Linked DNA regions of Homo sapiens: regions 2 and 3 are each linked to region 1. The links come from fine-mapping of genetic effects on gene expression. A gene starts in region 1. Each other region holds a variant in brackets. All regions are shown on one strand. Distances are from middle to middle. Region 1 holds the start of GTF3C4 (general transcription factor IIIC subunit 4). Region 2 has its middle 29 kb from the start of GTF3C4. Region 3 has its middle 37 kb from the start of GTF3C4.

Region 1 (2,742 bases):
TTCTAGTTGACGGTTGAGTTTGTCTAAACACCTGGGATGGATACAAAGAAAATGCTCAGGTTAAGATAAAAGATTGTGGAGACCAAGGTTCTTTTCAAGTCTTTAGTGGCTGCCCTTAGAGACAACAGACAAGTGTTTCCTATTCAGATCTTTGAAAGGTGGTAGACTCTTAATCTCTTTAGGATTGGGAGGGCCTGGAAGAAAAAGATCTAGCTATGTTAATAGAGATTCTTTGCAGATGCAAATGTCCACCCCGCCCGCCCCCCCCAAAGAACAGCTTTGCAAAGCCATTTCAAAATGTGGCAAAGAAACATGTTTAGGGGTAATATTTTAACTTTCTTCTTTGTCACATAATGTTAGGCCAGAGCCAGTTTGGAAAGTAAGTCACGATATATAGGGTTAAATGAAAGCCATCTGATGAGAATTTATGGTTTGTAGGGCATGACTCTTCCCAGACAGGAATGTGGGCAAGATAAAAAAAAAAATCAGAGCTTAGTCCGCACTCAGTCGAGGAAACTGGCTTAGAGAAGTTAAGCTTTGGCCTGGGACTTGCGCCGGAACTTCAGGTCCTACCTTCCACGGGAAACAGCCTCTAATTCCTTCCTTTACTTTTCTAGGCGCAGGAGCCAGCTCCCCGCCCCTCCACACCGCTCCACTCCCCGCTTCCAGGCGCATCCCTGCGGGTGGTGTTCCGGTTAGAGACACGTGTTTCGGCGCAACTTGTCCCGAAGCTGCCCGGTGTCTTTCTCCCGCTTAACTCCGTGAATGACTCGAAACCCGACTCCAAGGCACGGCTGCAGCTCGCGGCGCGCCCACAGCCGGGCCGCGGGTGGGGACGGAGCTGAAGCCGGGTCAGAACTCACCCGACTCGCCTGGGCTGGGGGACGTCTGGAGAACGTCCTGGGGTTGTCGAAGAGCGAACCGTCGGCGGCTGCCATGGTCTGCGTGGGTGACGCGTGGTGCAGCAGCGAGCCCGGTGCGCAGACTGCTGGGCCCGGGACCCCACGTGGGACGCGCGAGGACCCTGCGCCACCGCCCCTTCCGGGTCCGGAACGGCTCCAGCTGTACGGACTCGTCCCGAGGGGAGCCGGGGACGGCGGCACCGGGCGGGTAGGGACAAGACTACCGCGCGTGCCCCCGCCTGGTGGCAGCCCCTCTCTGCGTCCCTCGCGGCCTGGCAAAATTACATTCGGCCGAGAGTTCACGCTGGGGAAGCTCTCTGAATGCCTCTGAGAAGCGAGATCCGGCGCCATCTCACCGACGAGCCTCCCCTTTACCGCCCCGTGCGTTTCCTCAGCACTTTAGGAACTAAAGCCTGTCTGGGTAGCTCCCTAACAGGCTCTGGAGCTCAATCCCTGGGCAGGGAAAAGGGGGTCCTCGGGGCTCCCCGCTCGCTGTCCTTTTTCTGGACAGGCAGTTCCTTGGCCACCTGGTAGGGCCGCGTTGCCTGGCAACGGCGGGGTCCTTCTTGGCTCGGCGGCGCTCGGGGCCTGAGGGGAGAAAACCGCCGCGGAGGGCGCTGGGGGTGGCGGCGGCGGTCCGGGAGGTGGTCGCGCGACTGCGTGGAGCGCCAGGGCGTCCGACCTCTGCACCTGAGAGAAGATGAACACGGCCGACCAGGCCCGGGTGGGGCCCGCGGACGACGGGCCTGCGCCGTCTGGGGAGGAGGAGGGAGAGGGGGGCGGCGAGGCGGGCGGGAAGGAGCCAGCAGCGGACGCGGCCCCGGGGCCCAGCGCTGCATTCCGCCTCATGGTGACTCGGCGGGAGCCGGCCGTGAAGCTGCAGTATGCGGTGAGCGGCCTGGAACCGCTGGCTTGGTCCGAGGACCACCGCGTGTCTGTGTCCACGGCCCGCAGCATCGCTGTGCTGGAGCTCATCTGCGACGTGCACAACCCGGGCCAGGACCTGGTTATCCACCGCACCTCGGTGCCCGCACCGCTCAACAGCTGTCTCCTCAAAGTAAGTCATCCCCCGCCATCCCTGGGGTCTTCCCCTGTCCCCCTCTCGCGGCCGCATCATCCGTCCCAGGGGAATCCGATCCCACACTCTGTCCGGGGATTTCCCTCTTCGCACCGAGCGCTGGGGATTTATTAAGCAGCCAGGGTTACCACAGCTTAAAAAAAAAAAAAGAAAAGCTCTGCAGCTGTCTGCACCCTGTTTCCCCAGGTCACCCGCCGCCGCAAACACAGGTACACACCCAGGGGGCTTCCCGGAGTTGAGTCCCAGGAACCCCTCCTTCGCCCCTCCGTCGGGCCCGCACATGGAGCGGGTTACTCGATGGTGCTTTCTGAGACTCCACCCCCTGTAGATCCAACCCGGGGCCTGCCTCTGTCGTTGCTGCTATTGTTTGGGGCCGACTTTCCGAGGTTCTTGGCTGGCTTTGTCTACTGTGTGTGTCCTCCTCTCGCGCCTCTTTAGCTTCAGAAAAGAAAAACTGGTCCCATCCATTGTCTTAATTGTTTCAGTGACTTTATTATGAATGGTCCTCGCCTCTCCTTGGGCAAACGGGTAAATACTGGATCTCGGGGTTTGTACTTTAGTTTTTCTTTACTAGCTAAACATCTTTGGGATGTTGAATGAAAATAAAGATTCGAAACAACTACCTATCTTAAACTTCAAGCGCAAGGTCAAGTAGTAAGCCATAGCGTTCCTTTTAGTTGCTTAGAGGTGTAAAAACTTTCCATATATCCTTGATAGAGGTGTACGCTTACATGTGAACTGTCAGTGTATATTCATACATTC
Region 2 (2,758 bases), 29 kb after region 1:
CTCAACAGAAACCACAACCTTGCACAAACTCCATTGCAACGTTATACAAAAAAATACTTATTCAAAGATATCTGCCCAGCAACTGCCTGTCCAACCTCAGACGTGCATTACGCTTATTATTGACCTTTGTAGCCAAGGATAATTATTTCAAAACAATTATGTAATCCTCATTTTTTCCTTAAAAATCTATGTCTTCCTTTACCTCCCTGAAAACACACTTAGTTTACTATGGTGCATGTATCCCCACTGCAATGCTCTATTCCCAAATATTTTTCTTTCAGAGAGCCTATCTCATATTTATGCTGACATATATGGTGTCAGAAGTGAGACCCAAAAAAAAGATCACTATCAGATCAGCGATTATGGGAACCAGTGTGCAGTACTCATGTGAGCCTTTTGTGCTCTCTGCTTCTGCAGCTCACCTTTTCTGCCCTGGTGAGTCTTTTCCCAGGCTGAGCCTCCCACTTTTTGGTAGAGGCTTTTAAAATATTATTTGGGATCTTGTTTAGATAAGGTCACCTTAATAAAGGACCATACATTCCCTCCTCAGATGATAAAAGACTTTTTGTCTTCTGGTAAGCCCTTTTTGGTATAAAGACAAGTGTCTCTCTGAACACTGAGCTTTGGGTACCCAACTCTATATTCTGCAGAATTTACATTCTGTCTGTGAGGTAGGTCTTTTCTGGTGAATATATTTTTAGTGTGGTCTGTGTACCTATTTTAATGTTTTGTTTGATCTGAATGCCTGGGTTAAAATTTTTATGAACACTCTTGTCTTGGTCTCTTTTGATTTGGTTTGACTCTCTTCCCTTGCTTGTTTCTGAAAATCTTCTGAGAGCCAAAATAAATTTCTAAATGGTGGGTATGGGATAGCTAATTAAAAACCACTAGGGAAGGCCGGGCATGATGGCTCACGCCTGTAATCCCAGCACTTTGGGAGGCCGAGGCATGCAGATCACGAGGTCAAGAGATCGAGACCATCCTGGCCAACATGGTAAAACCCCATCTCTACTAAAAATATAAAAATTAGCTGGGTGTGGTGGTGCGTGCCTGTAGTCCCAGTTACTCAGGAGGCTGAGGCAGGAGAATCACTTGAACCTGGGAAGCGGAGGTTGCAGTGAGCCAAGATCGTGCCACTGCATTCCAGCCTGGCAACAGAGCAAGACTTCGTC[TAA/T]AAAAAAAAAAAAAAACCCACTAGGGAAGTCACCACCATCTAAAACACTGGTGTAAATGCTTGACATTTCCTGACAGGATTTACAGGATTTTCTTTGCTCTTGAGAGATTGATAAGAAATAGAATGGCATTCTCAAACATTAAGGCATGCCAGCTTTTCTGGGACTCCAGCCAGCTACATATTATGGCCCATTCTTGTGCACATGTTTAAACTGATAGGCAAAATTATATCAAGGAAAATTCAGAGCTCAAATGGTCATGATTCAAAAAACCTGGAAGTATCGAAGTACCATGTAGAGTCTTCTAAATTCTTTTTTTCCCTGCCTCCGTTGAATCTGCTGACTGTGCTACTGATATTGATTTAAAACTCAGTTTATGGCATTCCAACCAAGATTTTTTTTAAATAAAAAAGGAAGTAATGGTCTTTTTTTTTTTTTTTTTTGAGATGGAGCTTCACTTTTGTTGCCCAGGCTAGAGTTTAATGGTGCGATCTTGGCTCACTGCAACCTCTGCCTCCCGGGTTCAAGTGATTCTCCTGCCTCAGCCTCCCAAGTAGCTGGGATTACAGGTGCCCGCCACCATGCCCAGCTAATTTTTTGTATTTTTAGTAGAGATGGGGCTTCACCATGTTGGCCAGGCTGGTTTTGAACTCCTGACCTCAGGTGATCTTCCCACTTCGGCCTCCCAAAGTGCTGGGATTACAGGTGTGAGCCACAGTGCCCAGCTGGAAGTAGTAGTCTTAAAGGGCTTTTAAATGAATGGCTTTACAAATTACATCAGTAATTTGTACTGGTGTACAAATTGTAACCTAGACACCTTTTAGAAATATACATTTAGATTTGACTGACTAGCAATTATGTGCAGTGATGGAACACTTAATTGAAAAATTAATAATCTGAAAATAAAAAGAACTAGGTAAATGTTTATAAAAGTTAGGCTCCTGGATCAAACGAGTCAAAATCTTGAGCTCTGAGCAATTATATGCAGTATCTCTGTCCAACATAAACATTTTGCTTTTTCTGCCATGCTGAAGCCAAAAAGAAACATCTGCTGGGTGGGGGAAAACTGCTAAAATTCTTCACCATCTGTGTTTACTAATAAAGCAAAGCAGACTGGCCAAAAAAAAAGATTTGTTACTAGTTCAAGGCTACTTGAAGATGTTTTCCTTATTCAATTCCATCAGTCCTAGCTAAAATGTAAACATTGAAAATTTACCCCTAACCTCATTTGAAACTGAAAAGTGGGGGTGAGGAAGGTGAAAGAGGTTTTTAAAAATTCAAACTGCCATGAAAACTGCTTTACCCCAAATTTTGGTCCACAGCTTTCATTAGATTATCTATTGGGAAAAATAAAGTTTAGTCATGTGAACAGATCCCAATTTTGTCAGAAATATGATTTAGCTCTAACTGTCTTTTATAAAGGAATAAATTTGTATTTCTAGCTCATGACTAATATTCTAAAATGAAAGCTCTAAGATGATTGTGTATGTGTACATGATGTGTATATGTGTTTAGGTGTGTTTACATACATGTGCATGTATTACATTTTATGTTGTGTCGACATATAAAAATCTAGTATAGTCAAC
Region 3 (2,758 bases), 37 kb after region 1:
GGATCTCGATTTCTTCCCCACCCAAACTCGTCTGCTCTTCATTACAATATAATCCAAAGACATTTGTCTTTCCGCTCCACAAAACATCATGCTGCTCTGTTATGTCGACGGCAGCATCCTAACTGGACTTGGGAAACAGGAAAGTGGCAACTGCTTGAATGTGGGGCATATGTGTGCCAGAAAGTCGATGAAAAATACTACAATGATTCTGGGTCCTGTAATCACAATGAAGTTTTTATGGATCCAGTGGTCCAAGGCATGCCATGGCATTGTCCTTAAGGCAAAAAACAAGTTCTTGCACCTTTTACTTCCTACCACTGAGAAAGAGGCAAAGAGCTTCTGGCAGCCTCTACCAGGGACCCAGCTCCGGCTCACTTACTGAATAACTCAAAAGGCTGGTAGCTTTGTGTGAGGTCCGTAGCAAGAGAGGACTCCAGGTCCAGGCTGGGATGCAAGCTGGCCTGTCACTTGGGCCATGTTACCCAGAAGACCCAGTGGAGCTAGACACATCTATTCTACTCGACATTGCACTATAGGTCCTGGTCATTCCAATAAGGCGAGAGAGAGAAAGGTATAAAGATTGGGGGAAAAGGGCCAGGCATCGTGGCTCATACCTGTAATCCCAGTGCTTTGTGAGACTGAGGCAGGAGCATCACTTGAGGCCAGGAGTTTGAGGCTGCAGTGAACCATGATCACACCACCTCCCTCCAGCCTGGGAGACTGAGCGAGACCCTGTCTCTTAGGAAAAAGAAAAAAAAAATTGGAAAAAAGATATCGTATTCTCAGTCAATATGATATGTAGCCTGGGCAACATAGGGAGATCCTATCTCCACAAAAAAAAAAAAAAAAAAAAAAAATTAGCCAGGCATAGTGGTCCATACCTGTAGTCCCAGCTACTTGAGAGGCTGAGGTGGAGGGTCACTTGAGTCCAGGAGCTCAGGCTGCAGTGAGCTACAGTGGCACCATTGCACTCCAGCCTGGGCGACAGAGCGAGACCCTGTCACAAACAAACAAAAAATATGATTGGGTATGAAAAAAGTATAAAAGAATCGACTGATAAGTTATTAGCATTAAGAGACATTAGCAAGGTTTCTGGATCCAAAACGAATACTCAAAAATAAATTGTGCAAATATTCATAGCAGTTTTAGTCACAATACTCAAAACCTAAAAACAACTCAAGTATCCATCAATAGGTGACTATAGAAACAAAATGTAGAATAGCTACACAACGGTGTGTGGCTCAGCTACAAAAAGGAACAAATCAATAATACACATGAGCCGCTTACTGATTGATTAACTTAGCTCCAGATTCACCCTTCAGTCCCCACCTGCTGTCATTGGCTGGACTCCATCCTTCTTGGCTGTGGGCACGATATTCAGCTTTGTCAAAAGAGGGTGCTCAGGCCAGGTGCGGTGGTTCTTAC[CT/C]GTAATCCCAGCACTTTGGGAGGCCAAGGCGGGCGGATCACGAGGTCAGGAGTTCAAGACCAGCCTGGCCAACATGGTGAATGAAACCCCGTCTCTACTAAAAATACAAAAATTACTTGGGTGTGGTGGTGGGTGCCTGTAATCTCAGCTATTCGGGAGGCTGAGGCCGGAGAATTTATTGAACCCGGGAGGCGGAGGTTGCAGTGAGCCGAGATCGCGTCACTGCACTCCAGCCTGGGGACAGAGTGAGACACCGTCTCAAAAAAAAAAAAAAAAAAGAAAGAAAGAAAGAAAGAAAAAGCGGGCGCTGGAGGGAGCCTGCAGAAGGCAGGGGCTTGTGGATCTGCTGCCTTTTCCTTCCTTCCTCCCTTCTTCTTCCTCTAGCATCCATGTACGTAGAGGACCGCAACGGTGCCCTGCCCCAGGCTTGGCTGCATGTCTCCACCCTGAAAGTAGCTGGCCTGTGGTTCCAGGATCCGCTCACACTGGCAGGGTGTGACCAACTCATCCTGGCTCTCCCAGAACCGGCCTGCTTTGAAAAGTGGAATGCCCATGTCTGGGAGCTCCCTCGGTCCCAGGCAAACCGGGATGCTTAGTTTCACCACAGACCAGACTCCTCCAACACAGCTTTTAAAGGAAGAGGAAAGCCCAGAACTCCGAGCTCCTCTCCCCAGGTGCTGAAGGGCCATGTTCCCACCAGGACCACAGCCCAGCCCTCCACAGCTAACGACAGAGGTGGTTGTGTGTCCGTCTTCAGGTTTTGTTCCCTTTTCCTCCCTTCCCTCTTTTCTCCTAAAACATGCGAAGGAAACTGGGGATAAGAGGGAGGCTTTCGACAATATTAGGAACATCTCTGACGTTCTTTCTCGAGAAAACGTAACATCTACCACCCTGGGTCCCCCGCTTAGGATCCTCACCGAGGACATCGATTTCAATACGGCGCTCCGAGAGCCCCTGGAACACCCCGGGGAAGTACAAGAGGTAGCGGCGAGTCAATCCAGGGACTCCAGCTGGGACCCCCGGCGAGTCCCTCGGCTCCATGCCCCTCCTTGCTTGCAGCTTCATCCTTGGAAACTGTTTCTCAAAGTGGTGCCTCGGCCCGTCTGCACGTGGAAGGCAAGAATCTGGGGGCCTCAAAATCTGCAGGCTGAAGGAGCTCCTCTGGTGCCGCTGACGCACACCGTAGCGCACCTGCGGCGTCTCGTGGCTGGCCCGTTCCCAGGGCACGCAGCTGCACTTCACCAGATGACGCCGATTGTCTCCTAGAGTGGTGGTGCCTGGTCCACCTCATCACAGTCTTCATGAGTTCCCCTTGCTCCCCATTCTGTCAAT

Evidence for each region. PIP is the estimated chance that this variant, and not a neighbour inherited with it, causes the effect. A credible set is the group of variants that fine-mapping cannot tell apart.
Region 2: its variant is the best candidate, but not a certain one, in a credible set for the expression of GTF3C4 in whole blood (INTERVAL, PIP 0.87).
Region 3: its variant is the best candidate, but not a certain one, in a credible set for the expression of GTF3C4 in whole blood (TOPMed, PIP 0.75).

Annotation. Positions count from the first base shown.
Region 1 is chr9:132,668,997-132,671,738 of GRCh38, forward strand. It overlaps GTF3C4 (general transcription factor IIIC subunit 4), which reads left to right and starts at 1,468. Exons shown (of 5, transcript NM_012204.4): 1 at 1,468-1,959. The coding sequence starts at 1,603. DDX31 (DEAD-box helicase 31) reads right to left here and starts at 987. Exons shown (of 20, transcript NM_022779.9): 1 at 864-987. The coding sequence starts at 938. RefSeq lists enhancers at 844-1,711, 1,397-1,476 and silencers at 1,057-1,206, 1,627-1,756.
Region 2 is chr9:132,697,907-132,700,664 of GRCh38, forward strand. No RefSeq gene overlaps it. Among named protein-coding and RNA genes, the nearest start is that of GTF3C4, 29 kb to the left of the region's middle. The variant TAA/T (reference allele first, on the strand shown) is at 1,173.
Region 3 is chr9:132,706,385-132,709,142 of GRCh38, forward strand. No RefSeq gene overlaps it. Among named protein-coding and RNA genes, the nearest start is that of GTF3C4, 37 kb to the left of the region's middle. The variant CT/C (reference allele first, on the strand shown) is at 1,426.